7 linked regions of the Homo sapiens genome follow. The protein of the gene in region 3 purifies or fractionates together with the protein of the main gene of each other region. This does not show direct contact. Each region holds a gene or a part of one and is shown on either strand. Other genes may lie near its edges.

Evidence for each region.
Region 1: the proteins of MACO1 (region 3) and LRRC32 purify together in Homo sapiens (co-immunoprecipitation; one large-scale study listed by IntAct). This does not show direct contact.
Region 2: the proteins of MACO1 (region 3) and GRAMD1B purify together in Homo sapiens (co-immunoprecipitation; one large-scale study listed by IntAct). This does not show direct contact.
Region 4: the proteins of MACO1 (region 3) and RIC3 purify together in Homo sapiens (co-immunoprecipitation; one large-scale study listed by IntAct). This does not show direct contact.
Region 5: the proteins of MACO1 (region 3) and VSIG4 purify together in Homo sapiens (co-immunoprecipitation; one large-scale study listed by IntAct). This does not show direct contact.
Region 6: the proteins of MACO1 (region 3) and ADGRG5 purify together in Homo sapiens (co-immunoprecipitation; one large-scale study listed by IntAct). This does not show direct contact.
Region 7: the proteins of MACO1 (region 3) and FSD2 purify together in Homo sapiens (co-immunoprecipitation; one large-scale study listed by IntAct). This does not show direct contact.

What each region holds. Positions count from the first base shown.
Region 1 is NC_000011.10:76,664,248-76,667,747, reverse strand, and holds part of LRRC32 (transforming growth factor beta activator LRRC32 isoform a precursor), read left to right. Parts: intron 1-1,789; 5' UTR 1,790-1,793; coding exon 1,794-1,877; exon of another isoform or gene 1,878-1,882; coding exon of another isoform or gene 1,883-1,900; intron 1,901-3,500.
Region 2 is NC_000011.10:123,611,769-123,615,268, reverse strand, and holds part of GRAMD1B (protein Aster-B), read right to left. Parts: intron 2,509-3,500; coding exon 2,405-2,508; intron 1,815-2,404; coding exon 1,611-1,814; intron 525-1,610; coding exon 434-524; intron 1-433. UniProt on the Homo sapiens protein: Cholesterol transporter that mediates non-vesicular transport of cholesterol from the plasma membrane (PM) to the endoplasmic reticulum (ER).
Region 3 is NC_000001.11:25,437,397-25,440,896, reverse strand, and holds part of MACO1 (macoilin), read right to left. Parts: intron 1-3,500. UniProt on the Homo sapiens protein: Plays a role in the regulation of neuronal activity.
Region 4 is NC_000011.10:8,110,026-8,113,525, reverse strand, and holds part of RIC3 (protein RIC-3 isoform a precursor), read left to right. Parts: intron 1-2,388; coding exon 2,389-2,828; 3' UTR 2,829-3,500. UniProt on the Homo sapiens protein: Molecular chaperone which facilitates proper subunit assembly and surface trafficking of alpha-7 (CHRNA7) and alpha-8 (CHRNA8) nicotinic acetylcholine receptors.
Region 5 is NC_000023.11:66,026,581-66,030,080, forward strand, and holds part of VSIG4 (V-set and immunoglobulin domain-containing protein 4 isoform 1 precursor), read right to left. Parts: intron 1,533-3,500; coding exon 1,470-1,532; intron 947-1,469; coding exon 869-946; intron 1-868. UniProt on the Homo sapiens protein: Phagocytic receptor, strong negative regulator of T-cell proliferation and IL2 production. Potent inhibitor of the alternative complement pathway convertases.
Region 6 is NC_000016.10:57,566,643-57,570,142, reverse strand, and holds part of ADGRG5 (adhesion G-protein coupled receptor G5 isoform 1 precursor), read right to left. Parts: coding exon 3,392-3,500; exon of another isoform or gene 2,674-3,391; coding exon 2,552-2,673; exon of another isoform or gene 2,294-2,551; intron 2,288-2,293; coding exon 2,019-2,287; intron 1-2,018. UniProt on the Homo sapiens protein: Orphan adhesion G-protein coupled receptor (aGPCR). Ligand binding causes a conformation change that triggers signaling via guanine nucleotide-binding proteins (G proteins) and modulates the activity of downstream effectors, such as adenylate cyclase.
Region 7 is NC_000015.10:82,761,070-82,764,569, reverse strand, and holds part of FSD2 (fibronectin type III and SPRY domain-containing protein 2), read left to right. Parts: intron 1-2,291; coding exon 2,292-2,468; intron 2,469-3,500.

The sequences.
Region 1 (3,500 bases), on a different chromosome or scaffold from region 3:
CATGCTCCCCAGTGGCCTGGAAGGCCCTGCCGGAGGGGTTTTCACTCAGTTCTGAATATGCTAACTTTCTAACGGGCGGTGGCGTTCTGCTTTTTAAACAGCAGAACAAAGTTTCCTGTGAAAGCACAACCTGTAATGCAGGTGAGAGCAGAGCAGCTGCAGGGGCAGCGCCTGTGGCCCTGAGGGGAGCCAGGGAATAGGGTTTACCGGGTCCGGCTGTGGTCTGTGCGCCTTCAAGAGAGATGGGATTCAGAGCAGCCATCTTCGTCCATAGCTCATCACTAGCGGGTTCCAACAGTCAAAGACACTGCCCTCAAATGCCCTGTGAATGCCTTTTCTCCTGCAGCATCCTTCAGAATCGCGGTTCAGCACTCACTGAGGGAGCACCCACTGTGGGAGGCCTGGGAGTGTGGATTTGAAGGGCACAGACCCAGGAGCCAGACTCACCTGGGCCGGTGGCTTGTTCACCGTGTGACCTCGGGCATAGTACCTAAGCTCTCTGAGACTTCTTTTTCCCTTCTGTAAAATGATGATGGAACCAAGTCATTGAATTTTTGTGAGGATGGAATGAGTTCATGCCTAGAAAGTGCTGAGGAGAGGGCCTACTGCATAATGGAGGCTCTGTAGGTGGCATCTCGTTTGATTCTCAACAAAAACTTGGCATGGCTGCCATTAACCTCAAATGAGGAGACTGAGGCTCAGAGAGGTGAAGCGACTTGTAAGATCACACAGCAGAAAGGTAGAGGAGACAAGAGGGAGCAGTCAGATGTGGGTGACTGTGCGCCTGGTGCTCTTGGAAGGCTTTCTGTGTCCCTCTTTAAGACTCTCTGTCTGTATCACCGTCACTGTCACTTCTTTTTCGTGTTCATTTGTTTTTTGAGTTCCCAGTTCCCAGCACAGAGCCAGACATGAGGAGGTATTCAGTAAAGGTGTGAATGAATGAATGAAATTCATGGGTGGATTTGTACATCCCTAGCACTTGGCTGATGTCCTTAGTGAGGGAGTGAGTGAGCCTCCAGCAGCACTGGGATTTAACCCTGCTAAGGGCCTGTGCGGTCCCCTTAGCCCCACCCCTGGCTGCTCTTAGAGGGAAGGGCTGGCCCAGGAGGCCGGAGTGTGGCTTCAGTGAAAGTACAGGGCCTGCCAGGCTGCTCCTGGGGAAGTCCGCAGAGCAGTGCCGGGGCAGCCAGGCCTCCTGTGGGACTTCCTGCCAAGGCCCGGGCCCAGCCCTTGAACAATGGCAAGGGCTCGAGAATCAGAGAATCAAAAGGAAAAGGGCAAAATAAAGGTGGGGGAGTGGGCAGAAAACGAGGAATTGCATGTGGGGACTGAAGAGCTGGTACGGAGGACTTGTGTGGCCTGGGTGGAAATGTAGTCAGAGGCCCACCCTCCAAACCCCCTCTACATCTCCATGCCCCCAGTCCCTGGCCCTGAGCATGGCCTAGGGTAACCCTTAGGGTCTGTCAGCCTTCTGTGCATCCCCTCCAGGCTGTCTTCCGCCAGGTGGGGTCTCTTGAAAACCCCCGTCTGACCAAGTCACCTGCCGCTTAAAACTCTTGCTTCCCCTGGGTAATGGGCGGCTCCTTGGCCTGGGTGAGAGGCCTACTATGATGGGCTGCAGGCCCATTTCCCACCTGGCTCTCTGCCCTGCTCAAAGCATCTTTATTCCAGCTCCAGCCGTGCTCTGGGGTTCCCTGAGGGCAGGCACAGAATGGGTGGGAGTGGGGGCTGGCAGTGGGAAGGAGCCAGTGGGCTTACAGTGTTCCCCTTTCCTCTCCGCCTTACACAGAGCCATGAGACCCCAGATCCTGCTGCTCCTGGCCCTGCTGACCCTAGGCCTGGCTGCACAACACCAAGACAAAGTGCCCTGTAAGATGGTAAGATGCTCTGCCCAGACAGGGTGAGGACCACCCCCACCTCCCTGCCCTAGGGTGTGCTAGTGCCCCAGCCCCAGAAGCCAGAAGTTAGAAGAGTCAGGAGAGGAAAGGGAATGTACCTTGCATTTAATGAGCACCTACTAGAATGTTTAAACACCTTATTTACCCACAGTCCTGCCAGGTAAGCACCATTATTCTCATTTTGCAAAGGAGGAGACTGAGGCTTGGAGAGATTGGGCCTTGTCCAAGGTCATTCAGCTGGGAACAGTGAGGCTGATATTACACTGTATTCCCCCAAGCTGTCCCCACAGAGCAGTAGGCCCAGCTAGGGGATCTAGAATATATATATATGTGTGGGGAATTTGGGGTAGGCCAGCTGGGAGGGGCTCCTCTGTGCTCATCCCTCTTGGAGACAAATCCCCTTCCAAGCTGGGCTCCTTGACTTGGGACTGCCCGCTGGAGTGCCTCTCACTTCTTAGTGCCCAGATCAAATGCTGCCATCTCCAGGAAGCCTCCCCAGCCCCTCCCAGGCTGGCCTAGTCTGATCACACCTTCCTCTGGGTTCCTGCGGTCCCCAGGCTTCCCCCTATCTCAATACTGAGAAGACTGAACATGTGGGGTGGTTGGTGAAAGGGTCCAAGCCTGTCTCACCTGCCAGACCATGAACTTCCCTAGGGCAAGGACCAAGTTTGATTTGCTTCTATTCCTTTTTCCTGTCCCAAGCCAGGGAAACTAGCCCTAAAGTTCTTGTGACTCTATGAGATACAGGGCAAAGAGAACACCTAGATCCACTTGTAAGGCCGGGCAGTCACTGAGGCCAGAGCCTGGCTGGGGAAAGGGCAGGGCCTCCGGAAGCCCCTCTTGGACCTGAGACTCGAAGAAGCTTATGACACAGAACCGGCAGCTGCTTCAGGAGGCAGGAAGTGCAGGCAGCTGCCTGCCCGCAGCCCTTCCCTGGGGGTGCAATGTCTCCTGTTGCCACCACCTTTCTTGCTCTTCAGAGCCCTTCTAAGATTCCCGGAGCCCAGAATTGCGGGCAGAGAAGGCCTCAGATGTCACCAAATACAAACGCACATTCTACCTCAGGGAGACGAGGCTCAGAGGGGAAAGTCCTTGACTACCCAACAGGCAGAGGGGAAGCGGGTGAATTTTGGAGTCTGGGGAAATGAGATAAGAGATAGGAAAGCACTTTCTGAACCAGCATGGGAATAATACACACGGGAAGTAAGGAGAAGATGTGTGACCCACCAGGGACCTACAGGATTCGAACCCAGCTGCCTTTGCCACTGTTCACTGCCTGGTGCCTCTCCCTACTCTGCTTTCCTCCCATGATCAGGTGGTGAAATGGAGTTGGATGGCAAGTCTTTGCTTCTGAAAAGGAAGCTGGGCAGTGGGTGTCCTGATAGCCCAGGACAGTGGGTGGGAGCTCTAAACTCTGGTCAAGGGCCAATTCCTCCAATTCCCTCCGACGGTAAGTCAGGCAATGCTGGGAGCTCAGAGCTGAAGGAGGCATGAAGACCCTGGAAGTGGAGCTCTGAGCACCGCCCTGGACTTCAAGCTTCTTCCTGGACTGGACTGGAGATCTGGGCATCCCAGTGCAGCCCTGCCCACCATCAGGCCCCC
Region 2 (3,500 bases), on a different chromosome or scaffold from region 3:
AACGTGTGGGCTCCATGAGTGCACAGTTCCAGTGCCTGGCACAGAGCAGACACCCAGAACATCTAATGAAGGAATGAACTCCTAAAATGCCCTCTAGCATTTCTCTGTTAGCATTTAACCATCTGTGCAGGAATTTCAAATGTTCTGTCTCTCTCACCCACTTGAAACTGAAACCCTGAAGGGTATGGATGCTGCATGAAGCATTTTCTTCTGAAGGCCTAGCATACAGTAAATGCTGAACAAAGCAGAGAAAAAGAAGCGAAGAGGTAAGCAACAGGCAGAGCAACCAATCCAGACAGAGAAGACTAGAGGATAAGGCAAAAACCAGGGCAAACAGTAAGGGTGCTCAGATGCTTCAAGAGACGAGGGCTGGGGCACCAGGCTGGAAAGGGAAGGTGGTGAGGGCAGGATAGGAAAACCTAGAATCCCTTACACACAGCTGATAACCAGCAGCAGCTTGGACACGCTCTGCAGGTGGAAACCGTTGGGGGTGTCCTCCGGGATATGCCGCGTCTGTGTGGAACCTGTGGGGAGAATTAAAGAGACCATCACCATGGTGACCCACAAGTCCAACAACTGCTGGTGGGGACACTGGTCAAACAGCAAACATCAGAGACTGATGGAAAAATGTCCATGACACTGTGACAGCAACGATATGCGGAGACTGCCAGCTCTCCAAGAGGAGAAGGTAAAATCCTCAAGGGCAAGGTCATGGGTTGGGTCAGGTCATCATTGAACAAATGAGAAAATCAACAGGCCCATGTAGCTAGGATACACAGGCCCAGGACAAAGGGATCTTCAGCTATGGGAGAGGATGTGGCATTGGGCTAGGACTAAAGACGGCTGGCTTCTGGGTCTGGATCTATTCCTAGTAAGCTACATGATGGAGGACAAGTCATGTAAGCTCTCTGAGAGTCAGTTTACTCAAATGCAATGTCAGTCAGAAATCTTAAATGCAAAACACGTAACATGGAAGTGCTAGGGGTAAAGCTAGGCGGCATGCAGAAGGCTGGCACTCTTCCCCCACTCTCCCCTCTTCTTCTGCCTCCCCTGTCCATATCCAACTCAATTAGTTGGTCTCTAAGGCCCCTTAGAGTCCCAGGTTTCCAGGATTCAGCAAAGACAAGGATGTGAATGGCTGGGTGGGAAGAGGAAGAAATATTAAGGGAGTCCACGGCCTGAGAGGGCAAGCCTGGGTTGGCCCATGCGGGTTGAAGTGAACGGGGACTGTCTTGGTCTCCCTGATCTTTGTGTAATGAGGTAATCTCTGTGGTCTGAGCTGTGGGATCTCCTTAGTGTATTTCCCAAGAACTTGGAAGCTTCATACTTGAGCCTATGCAGGTAGCCATGGAACTAGGGCAACACGAAAGCATAAACACTAAGGCAGCTTTTGTTAATTAGAGCACACATATGGGTTCAGCTGGGGCTGAGGAACTTAAAGAGCAAAGAGAAACAGAGCATTGGGAGCCTCAGATTTAGTGACTTACGTTCAAATTATATACAAATTATAGCCAAGGTGCAAAATGAGTGTGCATGTGTGTGCCTTGGTGTGGGCATGCAGCTCCAGCCCAAAGCTTAGTCCACCCGACCTGTCCCCACCTGGCACACACCTGCCACATGTTTGATCCTGTGGCCCACATCCTCATCTGTGGGCGTGGTGACCGGGCTCATCACCTCTTCCAGGTGAGGGACTCGCAGGTGGGCATGGGGACGCTTCCTCCTCCGCACCGTTGTAGTCTTGCTGGCCTTCTCTTTGGGAGATTGTCTGTGCATCTCAGCCAAATAAGTGCTCTCCGTTTTGGCCAGCTCGCTCTCTATCAGAGACAAAAGGACCACAGGAGAGGCCACCTTCAGCCCTCCAATGCAACTCTCTGCAGAACCATTTTCCTATTCTGTATTCTGGGAAGTTGGTTGGGTGGGTTGAGGATCCTCAGGGATGCCCATGAGCCTCAGGAGGTACTTGTGGGACCCAGCCCCAGTCAAACCCTTCCTCTGGGGTTGTTCAACATTGCAAGGAACCATATGTTCCCAATATCTGCACCCTCATGTATACAATTTGGGGCATACACGTCTTAAATAGATGCATTCACAGGCATTTTACAAATACTTCTCGTCACAGAGCCACCTATATCACTAGGTCTGTGGTTCCTTTTGGGGTGAGGGGTGTTTTATAGATCCCTCAATGATCTCTTAAACATCCTAGACACAGTCTAGAAAAATGCACTTGTCCACATACATGCCAAATTTGGTGTCCACTTCTGAAGCAGGTGTGGGTACCTCATGAAACTACTTCACCTTTCAGTCTCTGCCTCTATTCTCAATACCATTCCCCTGAATGGTGGGCGGCCGCAGTGCAGTTTACCATCTCTGCAGCCCAGCTAGCAGCAAGGATTGCAGTGCTCACCTAAATGGCGGAAGTAGTCCTCCAGCCCACTCCAGAAGTTCTTCTCGATGAACGTTTTCACTAACCCCCAGGGCTGTTTTCGATAGCGCAGCTCTGTGGAGACCCTGAGGAGCAAGCCAGACACAAGATCAGTCATTTCCTGGGTGGGCCTGCCTCTGCTGGGAAAAGGGAAATTCGGAGTTAAGGCCAGATCCGCTTCACATTTGTACTAAACTTTACAAGTTAAAAGGTCCTTCCACATCCATCTCACCCTCTGAAGTCAGTGGAGCTGGTGGATTTATCCCCATTTTATAGATAAGAAAACTGAGCCGTAGGATATTTAAGCAGAGCAAAGGCTAACAACTAGGGTTCTGACTCCAGAGTTCTCTTATGATGGCACACTGCCTCCTCTCAGGGGTCTCACATAGGGCCCAGCAGCCTGCCTGCCAGGCAAGGGGAAGCTCTGCCTGAGGTTCAAGTCTTTTGAGAAACTGACACTGAAAGAAAGTAAGACGGCTCATCCTTTCATCAGGGTCATTCTCTCCTTCTCCAGAGACTTTTAAGTCTAAGTCAAGTTCTGGGTTTTTATCACTTTAACCTTTAAAAGTATGTCATCCTGGGCAACAGAGTGAGACCCCCATCTCTACAAAAACAAAAATAATTAGCCAGGGTCATGTCTGTAGTCCCAGCTAATGGGAGGTTGAGGTGGAGGTTGAGGCTGCAGTGAGCCATGATCACACCACTGCACTCCAGCCTGGGGAAGAGAGTGAGATCCTGTCTCAGAAAAAAAAAAAGAATATCATCTGCTGCCAGCCCTGGCTCCTGCCTCTCCACTGCACCCCAGACCTCACCAGCTCTTGCTCTTTTCCAAGCATTCTTGCTCCCAGTCACTGGTCACACTTCTGTCCATACCCCCTGCAGTATCAGCTCTTTTCTCTCCTATGCAGCAGCCCTGCTCTTTGCCTCCCCCTTAGGTTCATCTGCATCTGTCAATAGATTCTCCCAGCTAATCCATCCCGCCCCATCCCGCCCTGTGACTAAGGCTGCCAGCCCAGCCTCATCCCCCTCCTCAGGGATGCCACCTCCACCCATGTCCAGATGGGAGAATGCCTGTACT
Region 3 (3,500 bases):
ACAGCGGTGGTTCTCAAAGTATCTTCTAGTAAGCCAGACACTAAAGAGCTATGCAAAAATGTAAAACCACACCAGTCTTCTCATGAATTTATTAATTTATTGTTACTTTTCTTTTTTTTTTTTTTTTTTGAGATGGAGTCTCACTCTGTCGCCCAGGCTGGAGTGCAATGGCGCAATCTTGGCTCACTGCAACCTCTACCTCCCAGTTCAAGTGATTCTCCCACCTCAGCCTCTCAAGTAGCTGGGATTACAGGTGCCTACCACCATGCCTGGCTAATTTTTGTATTTTTAGTAGAGATGGGGTTTCACCATGTTGACCAGGCTGGTCTCGAACTCCTGACCTCAGGTGATCCGCCTGCCTTGGCCTCACAAAGTGCTGGGATTACAGGCGTGAGCCACTGTGCTCAGCAATTTATTGGTACTTTTAAGTGAACTAATGTTTTAAATTTTTCTATTTTAACTTTTTTCTTTCTTCTTTTTTTTTTTTTTTTCCCAGAACTGGGGTCTTCCTTTGTTGCCCAGGCTGAAGTGCAGTGGTACAATCATAGTTCACTGCAGCCTCAACCTCAACCTGGGCTCAAGTGATCCTCCTATCTCAGCCTCCAGAGTAATTAGGACTACGGGCACATACCACCATGCTTGGCTAATTTTTTTTTTTTTTTTTTTGTAGAGATGGGATGTTGCTATGTTGCCCAGATTGGTCAACATAGCAAGATCCTGGGCTCAAGTGATCCTCCTACCTTGACCTCCCAAAGTGTTGGGACTACAGGCATGAGCCACCACATCCAGCCAGTTTTAATTTCTAATACAGTAAATATTGATAGATATAATCCATATAAACCAAATCTCTGTGATATTCTCAATCTTTTTTTTTTTTTTTGAGACAGAGTTTCGCTTGTTGCCCAGGCTAGAATGCAATGGTACGATCTCGGCTCACCGCAATCTCTGCCTCCTGGGTTCAAGTGATTCTCCTGCCTCAGCCTCCCAAGTAGCTGGGATTACAGGCATGCGCCACCATGCCCAGCTAATTTTTCATTTTTAGTAGAGACGGGGTTTCTCCAAGTTGGTCAGGCTGGTCTCAAACTCCTGACCTCAAGTGATCCACCTGTCTCAGCCTCCCAAAGTGCTGGGATTACAGGTGTGAGCCACAGTGTCCAGCCTCAATCATTTTTAAGAGTGTAAAGAGATCCAGAGACAAAAAAATTTTTTGACAAAAAAAAAAAAAACAGAAATTTGTGTGTGAGCCTTAACATAAAATAAACTGGAACCACTGCTGCATTCTGCAGGCACCTCCTTGTATAAAATCCAAAAAAGGGGAGCAGGCTGAGAAGACCAAGCTGTTCTATATTTCTTTTTTCTATTCTAGGCCTCCTGCATACTGCAAAGGGAACCTTTCTAGTGTCAATTACACACACACACACGCGCGCGTACATGTGCAGCCACTGCAATGACAAATCTAACAGTGTGAAATATGCCCTTTTTTGTTTGTTTATTTTTTTCAGAGACAGAGTCTTACTCTGTCTCCTAGGCTGTAGCGCAGTGGTGTGATCATAACTCACTGCAACCTCCAACTCCTGAGCTCAAGCGATCCTCCCACCTCAGCCTCCCAAGTAGCAAGGGTGACAGGCAAGAGCCACCATGCCTGGCTATTTTTTTTCTTTAAAAATAAATAAATAAATAAATAGGGTATCTTATGCCTTTCACTAAGGTGTAAGTACTTTGTACTATTTTTGTGACTTTTCTGTTTAATTAAATCTAAAATTATTTCAAAATGAGAAGTTAAAAAGAAGCAACACATACTTGTTATTAAAAAGGTAATATAATGTATAATATAAAAGCCCTTAGTAGTCCTGCCCCAAGATGATTGCTGTTATATAATTCATAAATATAATTTGCTTTTTCTATATAAACAAATGTGTTTCTTTCTTAACAAAAACAGGTTTCTGTTTGACATGTCCACTTCTTTTTTTTTTAGTTTTTTATTTTATTTTATTTTTCTTGAGACAGTCTCACTCTGTTGCCTAGGCTGGAGTGCAGTGGCACAATCTCGACTCACTGCAACCTCTGCCTCCTGGGTTCAAGCAGTTCTCCCAAGTCTCCCAAGTAGCTGGGATTACAGGCGCATGCTACCACGCCCAGCTAATTTTTATATTTTTAGTAGAGACGGGGTTTCGCCACGTTGGCCAGGCTGGTCTTGAACTCCTGACCTCAGGTGATCCACCCGCCTCGACCTCCCAAAGTGCTGGGATTACAGGCGTGAGCCACGGGGCCCAGTCATGTCCACTTCTTTATATAGAATTTCCCTTATCCATTTTAGCAGCAACATAGAGTTCCACATAGAATTTACACTGTTCTCTGCAGTCTCCTAACTTCTGTTTCTGTACTCTTTCAATAGTGCCTTGCAGCTTTTTAGTTCTCTATTCCTCAGGTTTGTTTCCTATAAAATGGCAATACCTACTCTGCCTATTTCACACTTGTGAGGATAAAATGAGATAATATGAAAACATTTGGAAAAGTTACAAGTAAGACAGAAATGTAAGGTGTGATTAAGCAGATTATTACTATCAATTATATGAAGCATAATTTTGATTCCCTTATGAAATGAATTTCTAATGTTTATATAATGTTAACAGGTTTTTTTAGAGCCTGTGAGTTGTTTTCTCTCTCCGCCTATGCTTCTTCACCCCTCCCCTTCCTCAACCCCATAGACTCCACACTGTTAAAAGTATTCTTGAAACAGAAATTCTAAAACTCACCACCTGCATTAGGTTACAATACCTGTCCTTGATATCTCTGTGGTCTATACAGACCTTTATAAAAATGTTATACTACAAAACCGTGAAAACCTTTTTTAGCGATTTCCATTCTAGATTTTTTTTTTCCTTTAAATTGGGGGCTGATTATGGTGGCTCACGCCTATAATATCAGCACTTTGGGATTATATTAACCACCACGCCCAGCCAATTCTCTTTTTTTGACACAGGGTCTTGCTCTATTGCCCAGGCTGGAGTGTAGTGACACGATCATGGCACACTGCAGCCTCAAACTCCTGGGCTCACGTGATCCTCCCGCCTCAGCCTCCCAAGTAGCTGGGACTACAGGAATGTGACACCACACCCAGCTAATTTTTTTGAATTTTAGTAGAGATGAGGTCTCGCTATGTTACCTAGGCTAGTCTTGAACTCCTGGACTCAAGCAATCCTCTTGCCTTAGCCTCCCAAAGTGCTGGGGTTACAGCCATCACACCCGGCCAAAAATTCTTATTACATCTGAGCAAGACGACTCAAGCCTCAGACAGTATCTCTCTTTTCTGAGACAGGAATCCTTACTTTGGACATGAACATAGTATTCATTCTCTTTAATGTTCAACTATTCTTGCTACAAGATAGGCAAAGTACTGATTTTAGTACTCAGCTATTTATTTGGTTTTTAAAAGTGTTGGGTGGGTGCGGTGGCTCATGCCTATAATCCCAGTACTTTGAGAGGTCAAGGTGAGTGGC
Region 4 (3,500 bases), on a different chromosome or scaffold from region 3:
TATGTGGGCAGACCTGGCTCTGGTTTTGTCTGGAACCTAGGGTGGGACTGGATTCTGGGGCCATAGTTGCTGGCCTGATGCTGGGTGGGCCCGGAGTCTGTATCTGCAGGGGCCAGCATGGAGGCTGGGTCTGTGGGTGCAGGCATTATGACTAGGGATGCAGAGCTGGACTGAGGCCTGGTGTTGGGGTAGGCTGAGAGCCTGAGTCTGGGTGACCTTCCCTCTTAAAGCAGATAGTCATGAAAATTCAAAGATAAGCTTTGTTCTAAGTGTGGGAAGACAGGGACATGCCAGCAAATGGACTTCTTTTAAGCATTCAGTGGCTGGGAGCTGACTAGCAAGCAGCTTCTCCAGATCCTATCCTTGACCATGGTGGCTGAGGGTCTTGGGTTAGCTAAGCTCCACTTTACCTAGCATTCCATCCGCAGTAAGTTAAGCCTTGGAATAAAGACTGCATTGGCAAAATTCTTAACATACTACTGTGAGTGCTGGTGAGGGTGTCATAAGATGGACAGTCTTTATATCACTGGTAGGATTGAAAATTTATACCACTCTTCTGGAAAGTAATTTGGCACAGTATAAAAAAGGCTTTTATAATGTCCATTCCCTTTGGTCTAGTTTTCATATTTATAGAAGTCTATCTTAAAGAACTAGGGAAGTGGACATAGATTTATATTAAGAAATCTTAACTTGTATACTACTTATAATAGGGGAAAATTGGAAAGAATCTAAATGCCCTAGAAAAGAGGACTAGTAAATCATGTCAGTTATGTAGCTATATGATGAGATATTTTGCAACCAACTTTCAAATGCCTAATGACATGGAGAGATGCTCATGATATAATGTTGAATTGAAAAACATCAGGATATAACCTTTTATACACAAATATGATCCTTCTTTTTAAAAAAGGGGAATAAGAAAATACATGTTGGCCGGGCGCGGTGGCTCATGCCTGTAATCCCAACAATTTGGAAGACCGAGGTGGGTGGATCACCTGAGGTCAGGAGTTTGAGACCAGCCTGGCCAACATAGTGAAACCCCGTCTCTGCTAAAAATACAAAAAATTAGCTAGGTGTGGTGGCATGCACCTGTAATCCCAGCTACTCAGGAGGCTGAGGCAGGAGAATCACTTGAATCGGGGAGGCAGAGGTTGCAGTGAACCGAGATTGCACCACTGCACTCCAGCCTGGGCAGGCGACAGAGCGAGACTCCGTCTCAAAAAAAAAAAAAGAAAAGAAAAGAAAAGAAAAGAAAATATATGTGTATATACGGTTAAAAAAAGACCAGAAAAAAGCAAATTATTATGAGTGAAGATATTATGGGTGATTTGTGTTTTCTTTTTTAAACTAGCCTGTATTTTTTTCAAATTTTCTACAAATGAGTCTGTATGATTTTTATAGTCAGAAAAAGCAGTAAATGTAGAAATGTCTCCACACACACCCTACATTGCACCAAAAAAGACTTATTTGTCACAGTTGTAGGCAAAAAATGGTTTACGTTAGGGTTGAATTTGCCAATTATCATAATGGGCAAATGGGTTCTGAATCCTCCAGCTTTCTGCACTGTATCGTGATTACGGCCGCTGGTGCCAGTACTGGTGTGTGAGCTCCAGCACGGCCCATCTGCTGCTCAGGCTTGCTTGGCGGACACAGATTTATTTCATTTAGTTTGGTAATTTGGCAACAGTTTCTCTTTTCTCATTATCCTAGCTGGGATTCAGTACCAGTGTTACTCATTTTGTTTGCCAGTTTGTTGTTTTCTTTTGTTCCATTTTGTGAAGATGAAGAAGCCAACAACAGGAATTCTGTCTTCCGAAAATGCAGTGCTTGTCCTTTCGGGATCTTGGGCATGCCTTGCTAAAGTGCTCTCTATTTTTGACACTTGCAAGCCATTTCAATTGTTTGGATAAATAGAAAGCTTCATGGTGTATTTTTCAAAGAGCTTAGCATTCCTTTCCTCTCCCCACTCCACCAAGGAAGATTTGGAAATTGTTCCAAATAGAAATTATAAACATTAGCCTGGAGCTGTGCTGTCTCTGTCTGGTTTTGATGCTTTTTTTGTTTTAACTAAAGGCTCATGTTGTTTGTTTAATCTTCATCAGTACTGCAAAAACACATGGTATAAGACTTAACTCTGCCCCAAGCACCCTACACATAAGAAGGGATTTTCATCTGAATTAGTTTGTATTTCAAAGAGCACTGGGATAGCCAGATTGCTAAGAATTTGCTCAAGTAAAACTTTAGAACTATTGGAATCTTAGAGATGTCTTGAATGGATTTGTTAGGATAGGATGGCTGCTGCCTGAGAATCCTCTTTGAACCTGACACTATTTTTTTTTTTTTTGAGGAGACATTCTTTGTAATACTTTGTGCTACTTTTCTCTCTAGGTTACCCTGAAGAGACTTACCCAATTTATGACCTTTCAGACTGTATCAAGCGTAGGCAAGAAACAATCTTGGTGGATTACCCTGACCCAAAAGAACTTTCTGCTGAAGAAATAGCTGAAAGAATGGGAATGATAGAAGAGGAAGAATCAGATCATTTGGGTTGGGAAAGTCTGCCCACTGACCCCAGAGCCCAGGAAGATAATTCTGTTACCTCGTGTGATCCAAAGCCAGAAACATGTTCCTGCTGTTTTCATGAAGACGAGGATCCTGCTGTCTTGGCAGAGAATGCTGGATTCAGTGCAGATAGCTACCCTGAGCAAGAGGAAACCACCAAAGAAGAGTGGTCCCAAGACTTTAAAGATGAAGGGTTGGGCATCAGCACCGATAAAGCATATACAGGCAGCATGCTGAGGAAGCGTAACCCCCAGGGTTTAGAGTGAAAACAGCCAGTCTGAAGTATCCATTACTCAAGTCCCAAGGTGACCTCTCTCTCCTCAGATTTCCTTCTTGGCCCTGTGCCCTGCACTTTCTTCACTGTGTTCAAGTGTCATAGCTATCAGGCCACTATCATGGATATCATGTATCCTTCCTGGTGCTCACACACCTGTCACCTTGTAAAACACGGACATTAGTGTGAACACAGGACAGCTTCGCTCTTTCTCTTCCTGCCTTTCCTCTATCAGAGAAGTTGATCCATTAAGTAATTATGTTTGGTCTATTGTAATTACAGATGGGACCACTCAGGGGCAAAGGTCTGACTCTTCCTGGTAGGTGTAACAGATAGTTCACCTGTGAACGAACATCAGCTTACAGATGATGAGGACTTAAGGTTGCAAGAATGAAGATTTCAGACTCCAAGATCCCTTATTCTTTGGGCCTTGAGCAGGTTAGTAGTCCCCTGGTGAGAAGAGAACATTTTGTTTGTGGGGCTAATGGGCCCAGAGGAGGGTAAGACTCTGCTGTCTAAGCTGAAGCCTCTTCCTCGCAGCGAGGGTCTTCCTAGGAACATTGATGCTGCCTCAGACATCCTCTTTTCTCCAGAGTAGGGAAGACTCCCACTGATCTGAGAATGAGCCCAGAGGCTTGTTTGGGGACTGTTTTACTCTGATACT
Region 5 (3,500 bases), on a different chromosome or scaffold from region 3:
GGTTTGAGTGCTGCCAAGGGATAGCCAAAAAACTCTGCAATCAGGAATGGAGAGTTACAAAGAGCATTTGGAAGTCCACTCTCTCAATTATACACAGGCAGAGAATGAGTACCAGGAGTGATAGTTATCAAACTATTTAATTCCAACCAGTCACAACAGATGCCTACTGTAGACTTGGAGTCTTAGAGATTCCTTGGTATACCTTTTGTTGCATGACCATGGGGGTGGTCTAGAGAGTTCTGAGGAATGGGACAAGGCAGCCCCAGGTAATAATGGAGGGCTCAGGGGTTAAGGGGAGCAGCTAATTATCAATTGGTGTGAGAGTGTTCTATTATTTCAACAGTCAATGTAGTCATGTGAAGGCATACCAACTGACTATCAGATGCAGGTGAAACACAAAAGATTTATTTGGGATTTGAATCTCTGAGACCCTGACTTGGGAATTTTCAAGGCTTTGGAGGAATCAGAAATCAGCTTCAAGCGGCTTGAAGAGCCCTGGTTAAGAGCTCAAGCAATGACACTCAGCCATTATCCTTACCTGGTTGAGGTCATGATGTCATAATGTCCCTATCCATATTCTTGCTCAGAATGTTTGGAAAGCATATTACTATGACAACAGAGAACTAAATAAAGGGCACATTTATCACTCCCCTTAACCTCACTCTGACTTTGCTCATCTCTGGATCTGTATCTCTCTCTCTACATCCTACCCACTTTACCCATCCTCAGTGCCCTTGACCATTGCTTGGCACATAGCAGGTAATGATTTGCAGATTTCAATGCTGTAGAACAGTGTGCATAAGGGAAAGTTTTGGTCACAAAGCTTAGAGTCAAGAAGAAAAGATAGAAATCCTGACAATATTCCTACCTGGCCCAGCACTGGTCTCTCCAAGGTAGCCATCCATGTCAGTGGTCCAGTCCCAGGACTGCTTCACTGTAGATGTTGCTATGAATATAGAGAATAGGGTCAGAGATGTCTCTCTTCTTTCAAAAAGTTGAGAGATAGGAGATGGTTGCAAAGGTTGGAGTCCTTCCCTGGCCATTTGTGCTGTACTTTCCAGGGTACCTGACCATGTTATCAACCACTAGTACCATGAGATAAGGCATCTTCATTTCTTACTGTTAGGTGTGGGCAGTGAGAAGAATTCCCATCGAGGGGAGGTAATGTACCCAAAGTCACACAGCAAGTCAAACTAGGAGCAGAATAGAATTTAGTGTTCTTGTTTTTTGTATTTCCAATGGGAGTAATTCTAACCCTCTCTTTCCTTTTGCCTCAGAAGTTTTCACAAAAAAAGAGTATATATTCATCATTGTTACCTTTCTTTTGTTTCCATTCCTTTACTGCTATGTTCTCTCTGAGGAACCAAGTGACTGTTTATTAGCCATTCCATGGCATTGTGATTCCTTTCTTGGCTACGATGACACCATTTTGAACCTCTACTACTTCCTCAGACTCTAGCAAAACTCACCTTTCAAGGGGTATGTCATGGTTGTAGGTGCCTCAGTCTTGGTCTTGAGTAGCTTTGAGGAGTCTGCAAGGAAAAGGGAACCGATTGAAGGGACCTGGTACCCTTTGGTGAATAGTTTAATGCCCTAGGGAAATAGGAAGTAAGTAAAGGCCATTCAGGTCCATACTTGGACCTGCCTCAACACTTCTGTCATGATGCTGGTAAGTCCTGTGTTGCTTGTTCATCTTTCATACATCAATCAAGGACAGAGTTTTTAACCCAGGATTAATAGATCTCGAAGGAACCTGTAGCTAGAGTTCAGAGAGTCAGTCAACTTGGATGGGAAAATATATTTTATTTTTACTAACTTCTAACTGAGACCTAGTAATTAATTCTCTTGAGAGAAACTTGGGAAGTATCATAAAGAAAGTGGCAATGGGTGACATCAGTGAAAATGGTGACATAATAACCTCCAGAAATTTACCCTTTAACAACATCAGTGAAATAATGCAAAATTTGACGTAATCAACTTTTTTTTTTTTTTTTTTTTTTTTTTAGAATTTTGCAAAATAGCCAAAGGTTTGCAGCACCTTAGACAGGATTTATGGAAGAAAAATATCCCAGTTTTGGTAAGAACAGCAAGCTTTGTGCTGTTTTAACTTCTCCTAGTCCCCTTACCCCTTCTACCTCAGAGGTAATCTTGAACATACAACCCCATTCCAGGTGCTGGAGTGAGCCCAACAAACTTCATTTTTGAATAATTGCCATTATTTGGCCTGTCTGGTGGTTCCCTGAAAGACCTGACTCAAAAGACTTGTTTTATTGGTCACCCAGTGCTAAGAGCCTCTCCCCAGGGATGGGGTAGCATTTGTCACACAGCTGCCTGAGGCAATGGATAATAGGCGAGAAAACAAAAAAAACTAACCAAAATAGCCTTAAAAATGGTTGAGGAATAAGATTTCCATAGGGATTTTGAAGAGTTCTGACACAGTTCTGGGAAACTAGGAGGCCACACACAAGCACAGGGCCATGTACCTGCTCAGAAAAGACATGAGAAAACCATAAGCTTCTCCCTCTTGCTAGCAGAGGAAACAGCATGCTCCGTTTTAGATGTGGCGAAACATATTAGTAGATAAGTCTGGATAGGTAGGCTGAAAACAGACTAAAAGGGTTTGGGCTTTGTTCTTTAGTTGGAAAGATCCATGGGGTGTAACAGAAGGTTACACCTTTTGAGAAAGGTTTACTTCCTTTTGAGAAAGGAAGCAAAAATTGTTCAGTCTATTTTTTTTGGAAATAATTCTGACAACAGTGTGGTAGGATTTTCAAAGGTAAGGCAATAGCATATTTTCCCCATTCATTAACAAATACAGTATTCATCTAGTGTCTAGTGTCTTCTTTGTGCCAGATACTTTGCTGGGCTCTGAAAAACAGCAATGAAGTAGACAGGTAGAATTCTGCACTCTTGAATTTTATAATCTAGTGACATAAAATATATACTCAATAAATATTGAATAAGTTGATGACTTCGTAAGAATGTATGAACATGGGGAGAACATTTAGAAGATGATTGAAATTGTTTTTTAAAAAAGAATATGAGACCATGAGGGTATAGGAAGAGAAAGAAAGAGCCTAATAAGGTATCTGATTCAGTAGGTGAATTCACAGCACTTGGTAATATTGATGATTATTTGACGATGCGAGGTAAAAGAGAAGGAGGAGTCAAAGGTACTGCTATGTTTTCTAACAGGTTTGAGGAACAGGTTTGGTGAGTAAAAGGTACGATCAGTTTTGAACACGCTGAAATTAGAAATGAAGCTGTCCAGAAGGTAACTAGACACTGGGATCTAGCAGTCAGGAAAAAATAAATACAGATAATATTATGGTTGGAGAGTCATCAGACTACAGGTGATATTTGAAGCCACAGAAGTAAATAAAATCTCCTGATAATATAGAAATACATGCAGAGATGAATAAGAATTGAGTCTTTGAGAACATTTACAATTAAGGAGTGAATGAAAAAAGAGCCAACAAAGGTGTCTCAGAAGGATCATT
Region 6 (3,500 bases), on a different chromosome or scaffold from region 3:
GGGGAACTGCTGAGGAAATAGAAATAAGCAAGAAAGGGGCAAGGACGGTGATGAAGGTACCAGTGATGGTGCTGCTGGAGATAGAGAAGGTGGAGGAAGTGATGATGGTGGAGATGGAGGTGGAGTAGGTGGTGATGGTGGTGAAGGAGGTAGAGAAAATGAAGGCGGTAATGGAGGTAGAGGAGGTGATGATGGTGCTGATGGAGGTGGAGGAGATGGAGGTGATGATGGTGATAGTGCAGGTGGAGGAGATGATGGTGATGACAGAGGTGGAGAAGATGGAGGAGGTGACGGTGATGATAGACGTGGAGGAGGTAATGATGATGATAGAGGTGGAGGAGATGGAGGAGGTGATGGTGATGATGGAGGTGGAGGAGGTGACGATGGTGATGACAGAGGTGGAGGAGATGGAGGATGTGATGACGATGGTGATAGAGGTGGAGGAGGTGATGATGGTGGTGACAGAGGTGGAGGAGATGGAGGAGGTGATGATGGTGATGATGAAGGTGGAGGAGGTGATGATGGCGATGATAGAGGTGGAGGAGATGGAGGAGGCGATGGTGATGATGGAGGTAGAGGAGGTGATAATGGTGATGATAGAGGTGGAGGAGATGGAGGAAGTGATGGTGATGATGGAGGTGGAGGAGGTGATGATGGTGGTGATAGAGGTGGAGGAGATGGAGCAGGTGATGATAGTGATGACGGAAGTGGAGGAGGTGATCATGGAGGTGATAGAGGTGGAGGAGGTGGTGATGGAGTTGATGGAGGTGGAGGAGGTGGTGATGGAGGTGATGGAGGTGGAGGTGGTGGTGATGGAGATGATGGAGGTGGAGGTGATGATGATGGAGGTGGAGGAGGTGATGATGGAGGTGATGGAGGTGGAGGAGGTGGTGGTGGAGGTGAAGGAGATGATGGTGGTGGTGAAGGAAGTGGAGGAGGTGGTGGAGGTGGAGGAGGTGATGACGATGGTGATGAAGGTGGAGGAGGTGGTGATGGAGGTGGAGGAGGTGATCATGGTGGTGAAGAAGGTGGTGATGTACGTGGAGGAGGTGATGATGGTGGTGATGAAGGTGGAGGAGGTGATGGCGATAACGGAGGTGGAGGAGATGGTGATGGTGGTGATGGAGGTGGAGGAGGTGATGGTGATGATGAAGGTGGAGGAGGTGATGATGGTGGTGATAGAGGTGGAGGAGATGGAGCAGGTGATGATGGTGATGACGGAGGTGGAGGAGGTGATCACGGAGGTGATAGAGGTGGAGGAGGTGGTGATGGAGGTGATGATGGTGGAGGAGGTGGTGATGGAGGTGATGGAGGTGGAGGAGGTGGTGATGGAGGTGATGGAGGTGGAGGAGGTAGTGATGGAGGTGACAGAGGTGGAGGTGGTGGTGATGGAGGTGATGGAGGTGGAAGAGGTGATGATGGAGGTTGAGGAGGTGATGATGGAGGTGATGGAGGTGGAGGAGGTGGTGGTGGAGGTGAAGGAGATGATGGTGGTGGTGAAGGAGGTGGAAGAGGTGGTGGAGGTGGAGGAGGTGATGATGATGGTGATGATGGTGGAGGAGGTGGTGATGGAGGTGGAGGAGGTGATCATGGTGGTGAAGAAGGTGGTGATGTACGTGGAGGAGGTGACGATGGTGGTGATGAAGGTGGAGGAGGTGATGGCGATAACAGAGGTGGATGAGATGATGATGGTGGTGATGGAGGTGGAGGAGGTGATGGTGATAATGAAGGTGGAGGAGGTGATAATGGTGGTGGAGGAGGTGGAGGAGGTGATGGTGATAATGAAGGTGGAGGAGGTGATAATGGTGGTGGAGGAGGTGACGATGATGATGATGGAGGTGGAAGAGGTGATAAAATTAGTAACATAGAAAGTAGAGGTGGGTGTAGACAGAGTTCACAGCTGGTGGTCATGTAATGGCCACTATGACGATGAGGAGGAGGGGAAAGAAAGGACTAAAGGGGATCAATACCCTGCCCACCTGGAAGTCTGAGGAGGCGAGGAGAGATGATGTGCTTACCCCAGCCTAGCACACCAAGCTTGAACACATATCTGCGGATGTAGATGTTGTAGACACGCCCGAGGAGGAGGTAGAGGTTGAAGCCCTCGATGGCCATCCAGGTGAGGCAGCTGAGCAGCGCGTAGTGCAGGGCAGCGGCCAGAGCCGTGCATGCTGACCCGGGCACAGGAGACATTGCGAATGCGGGGCTCAGCAGGAAGGCGATGTTCAGGAGCAGCACGGAGGCATGCAGGTTCATGTGGATGCGTGTTAAGGAGTCACTCTGCTTCCTGCAGGTGAGAGAATGGTCCTCCATGGCCCAGGGACATCACCCAGGCAGCACTACCCACTGGGTGCATAGGTGCATGCCGACAGGGAAACTGAGGCGAAGAAGGGGCAGGGATCCCACAGCAGTCGCACCACAAGGCTGGTCTCCCGCCTCCTGGTCCCCACCCTCTGGAGAAGCACACCCAGTTCTAGTGGACTAAATGGGACACAAGGAAGCGTGATGTGCCACAGTGCAGGGCAGGCCCAGCACTGTGGCAGCGGAATACCTGAAATGGAAGTGCAGCAGGACTGTGATCAGCGAGGCCACGATGGAGATGCTGCAGCCCACGAGGGAGATGTACGTAAGAGGTGCCAGCAACTCTGCAGGGACCAGGGCTGGGGAGAGTTGCTGCAGGAGGGAAGAGGGGCTGGAGGCCAGAAGCATAGTATCGCCCTTCCTCCCAGCCTCAGTCAGAGGGACCTCCTGAGGCCTCCTCTCCAAGTCCCCTTCCCCACAAGCCTAGCCATGGACCTGGCTTGAACAAGGCCATGGCAGATACAGTCAGTTTTGCCCCCTCCACATCTCCCATCTCCCTCTTCTTCTATGAGTGCCTCCCTTCTCCCACTCCCTATGCACCTGTGGGGTTCCACCACTTTGCCCTCTTTGTGCAGAAAGGGGTGCCAGGCCTGGTCAAGCAGGGCCCTCCCTCCTTCTGCCTATAGCGATTGGGTCAGGGATGAGCACATGGCTGGCAGAACTGGGTAAAAGAAGATTTTATTCCACTGGCCTGAAAGCTAGCAGGGCATGAGCCTGGAACTGCTGCCAGCTATATTATTATCTCATAAGGAGATCCTATTTGAGGGCTAAGCCAGCACAGAGCAAGCACAGTTGAGGGACAAAGATAGAGTGCTATCTTAGTGATCTTAGTGATCAGCCCGTGGATCAAGCCATGCCTGAAGCCTAACCCAGCCTTTCCAGAAACATGAGTCCATAAAGTTTTTTTTGTTTTTTGCTTAAGCCCATTTCAGTTGGACTTTCTGTCCCTTGCACCAGCTTTTGCCTTGCTCCTCTGCCACAGACACAGGGCCCTCTGTAGCTCTGAGCCCCACTCAGGATGCATACATACCATGAGAACAGCAAAGTAGGTGAGGTGGTTGCAGCGGCAGAGCACCTGAGAGTGGGAGGGCTGCTCTGTACGACAGCCCTCAGGGCTCCAGCCCCCCCAGGGCTGTTTC
Region 7 (3,500 bases), on a different chromosome or scaffold from region 3:
GGGGCGGAGATGGCGCCACTACACTCTAGCCTGGGCAACAGAGTGAGACTCCTTCTCAAAAAAAAAAAAAAAAAAAAGCAAGTAAAGAATGAAGCAACAAGAGCAGAGATTTATTGAAAACGAAAGCACACTCCACAGGGTGGGAGTGGGCCAAGCAAGCGGCTTAAGGGCCGGGTTACAGAATTTTCTGGGGTTTAAATATCCTCTAGAGGTTCCCACTGGTTACTTGGTGTACACCCTATGTATATGAAGTGGCTAAAGTGAAGTTACAAAGTCATTTACTGGGTGTACACCCTATGCAAATGAAGAGGATGTTTCCTGCCATGCTGAAATACAAAGCTATTTACTTGGACTTAGAAGGTTGGGGTTTTTCCGTTTAATTTAGTTCTAGGAAGTCCTTAGGTTCCCTGCCCCCAGACCCTGTTCTCCTGCTTCACAGGGGTCATGCTGTGGGCTAGTGGGAGAACAGAAACAAGGACCCAGGTCTCCCACCAGTTAGCCCAGTGCTCTCTCTCCTGCACTGTGGTACCTTACAGCAAAACTCCTGATGGAAAACTGGCCATGGAGTGAGTCTGTTCCAAAGTTCAAGGCAGATAATTGCTTTGTACATGTACATATGAAAGAAGCCGGAAAGATCATGTTTGGAGAAATATAAGGAATTTGGTATGTCTGCGGTATAGGATCCATGACGGGAAGAGGTGGAAGATGAGGCAGGAAAGTCGGAGAAAGTCCAGTATACACACAAAAAGTTAGGATTTTATCCTCTATGTGGTGAGAATTATTGGAGGATTTAAAGCAGGGGAACAAGATCAGATTACATTTCAGAAAGATTCCAGTGCATGGTAGAACGTGAGCTGGGGAGGGAGAGGGAAAGGCAAAGGCAGATGGGAAACAGAGACCAGAGAGGAGACTATGGAGGGCTTGACTACGCAGTAGCATGGGTGAGAGGAGCCAGGGGAGTCAACTGCTGTTGAGCACATAAAACCAACAAGGCTAGGTGCTCACCTGTTTAAAGGGCAACAGAGAGGAAGATGAGTCAGGGACTATCATATTGCCATATTTATAGAGTGCTTACCAAGTGCTAAATGTATTTCATCTCATGCAATCATCCTAACAGCCCTGTACTATTACCAATCCCAGTTGACGGATGAGAATACTTAAAACACAGAGAAGTAACTTGCCCAAGAGTATAATGCTATTAAGGGTTGAAGCAGGAATCAAACTAGAAGGTGAGCTTGTAGCCACTACATTATTCCCATCTTAGTTTTCCACCAGGGGGTTACCGGGTAGATAATGACTCTATTAACCAAAATGGAGATGTGAGAAGTATGTACCCCTCCCCACTACACCCCAAACTTTGGTAGATAAGAGGGGTGGGAATATGACTTTTTCCATTTGGGACATTCTGAATTTGAAACAACAAGTGGAAATGTGAGTCTGGAGCTTGAAGCAGAGATGGCCTCATTTTATAGGTGAGGTAACCGAGGTAGAAGTTAACCAACATGCAACCTCCTTCCCAAAGCTTTGCTTGAGCAGTAAGAACTTGGGGTTTTGAAAGTAGAGAGAAAATTTTAAACTGAACAAATCTTTCTAGGGATGTTGAGGTCTATATATATTTTGGTTAATGTAGGAGTCTCCTGAAGAAGGTAGAATATTCACTTTGGAGATACCAGTATAATTTGATTTTCACTGAAAACCTTCCTCTGTTGATACTTTGCTGATGTAGAACAAAACATAACTCTAATCTTTGTCAGTATAATTGTTCCCAGTGCAACAGTGGAGGTAGATTTTAATGATCTGTGAGGAATCTGCTATCTTGTTCTCCTTGGGCTGGCCTCTGAATTCCACCAGGAGTCATCCCTAACATGATGGCTACCTCAAAGGCCTTCCATGTTCATTTAGTACCATAAGCAATGGTGGTGAACTTCAAGCTTATGGTTCCCTTAACCGTGCTGTGTTGTGTATTTTCAACCCTTTTCTTTTTTTATGAACAAGTGAACCAAACCTTTTTCTATGAAAGCCCCAACCATTTTAAAGAGCAAACAAAACTTGTTCTGTTGGTTTAGTGCCTCCTCCTCTCCCATTACCAAGCAGTAACATAATCTCAAATCTTCAGTATCAGCCCACTGAGCTTTGAGAGCTAAGGGTACTTTACAAGTTAAGTGTCCAGAAGCACCTACCACCACGTTCGTAGACCACCGACTGACTGATCCCAGCAACTGGCATCACTGACCTGCACAGCCAGGCTTGGGGCACCCCAGATCACACATGCTTCCACTTTCTAAAACCAGGTGTGTTGCTGTCATGGGAAATCTAATTCCAGTCCGAGGGCACCATTACTGGGAGGTGGAGGTGGATGAGCATTTGGACTACAGAGTTGGTGTGGCCTTTGCAGATGTCCGTAAACAGGAGGATCTGGGAGCAAATTGCCTCTCCTGGTGCATGAGGCACACATTTGCATCATCAAGGTAAAGTAAAATCTGGATACTCACAATTAAAATTTGCTTTTGAAAGATTACAGCAAGACCTTTTCACTAGCAATAATTAAGACACACGTTATATTTTACAAATATTTTAAGATATTTCAGGAGTTGCTGCCAGCCACTTTCCCTAAAGTCCAAGTAAGAGGAGAAAGAGCAGCTTTTCTTCAACTAAAAATAGCTAAAATTTATGGAGAATTATGTGCCAAGTACTCTTACATGCATTATCTCATTTACTTCTCACAATTGTGTTATCTCATTTGAAAAATCAGAATGCTGGGTGCAGTGGTGTGCACCTGTAGTCCCAGCTACTCAGGAGAGTGAGGTAGGAGTATTGTTTGAGCCCTGGACTTCAAAGCCAGCTTGGGCAACATAGCAAGACCCCGTCTCTAAAAAAAAAAAAATAATAAAATAAAAAAATAAAATAAAATAAAAGAATAAAAATAAGAAGACCACACCTCACAGCAATTAGATAATCCAAACGACATGGATTTGGAACTTGGATTCAAACTCAAGCAGTCTGGTTCCAAAGATTTCATTCCTAACCACTTAAGTGATAGATTTTTCATTTCTGTTCACCTTTAGTATTAAGCCAATACAGTTTGCTTTGAAGCCCCAGTTCCATCTTTTTAAGTAAATGTGGGCAAGAGGCTTAGTAGTTATGGCTAATTCTGGTTTGCTCCTGCTGCTGGGCACTCTGTCTTTACACATGGAGTAGTTCCATATAGTGGGAAAAAAAGTCTCACGAAGCCCAGGCCAATGAATACACTTTCAGACTTAGAAGGCCATGGTTACAACCTTCCTTCACCTCAAAAACTGAAAAACAAGACCCCACACTGCTTTCCTATCACACCTTGTAAAATGGGGCCTCTGACCCTCCTTGATTTGATGAATCCTATTAATGTTCATCCAATGCTCTCTGCCCATGATCCTCTATCATGGTTATTTACACATTATGTGTCATGCCCAAGCATAAGTGGGAAAACCAACTTCCCCTCCGATAACAGATGAAGACTCTAA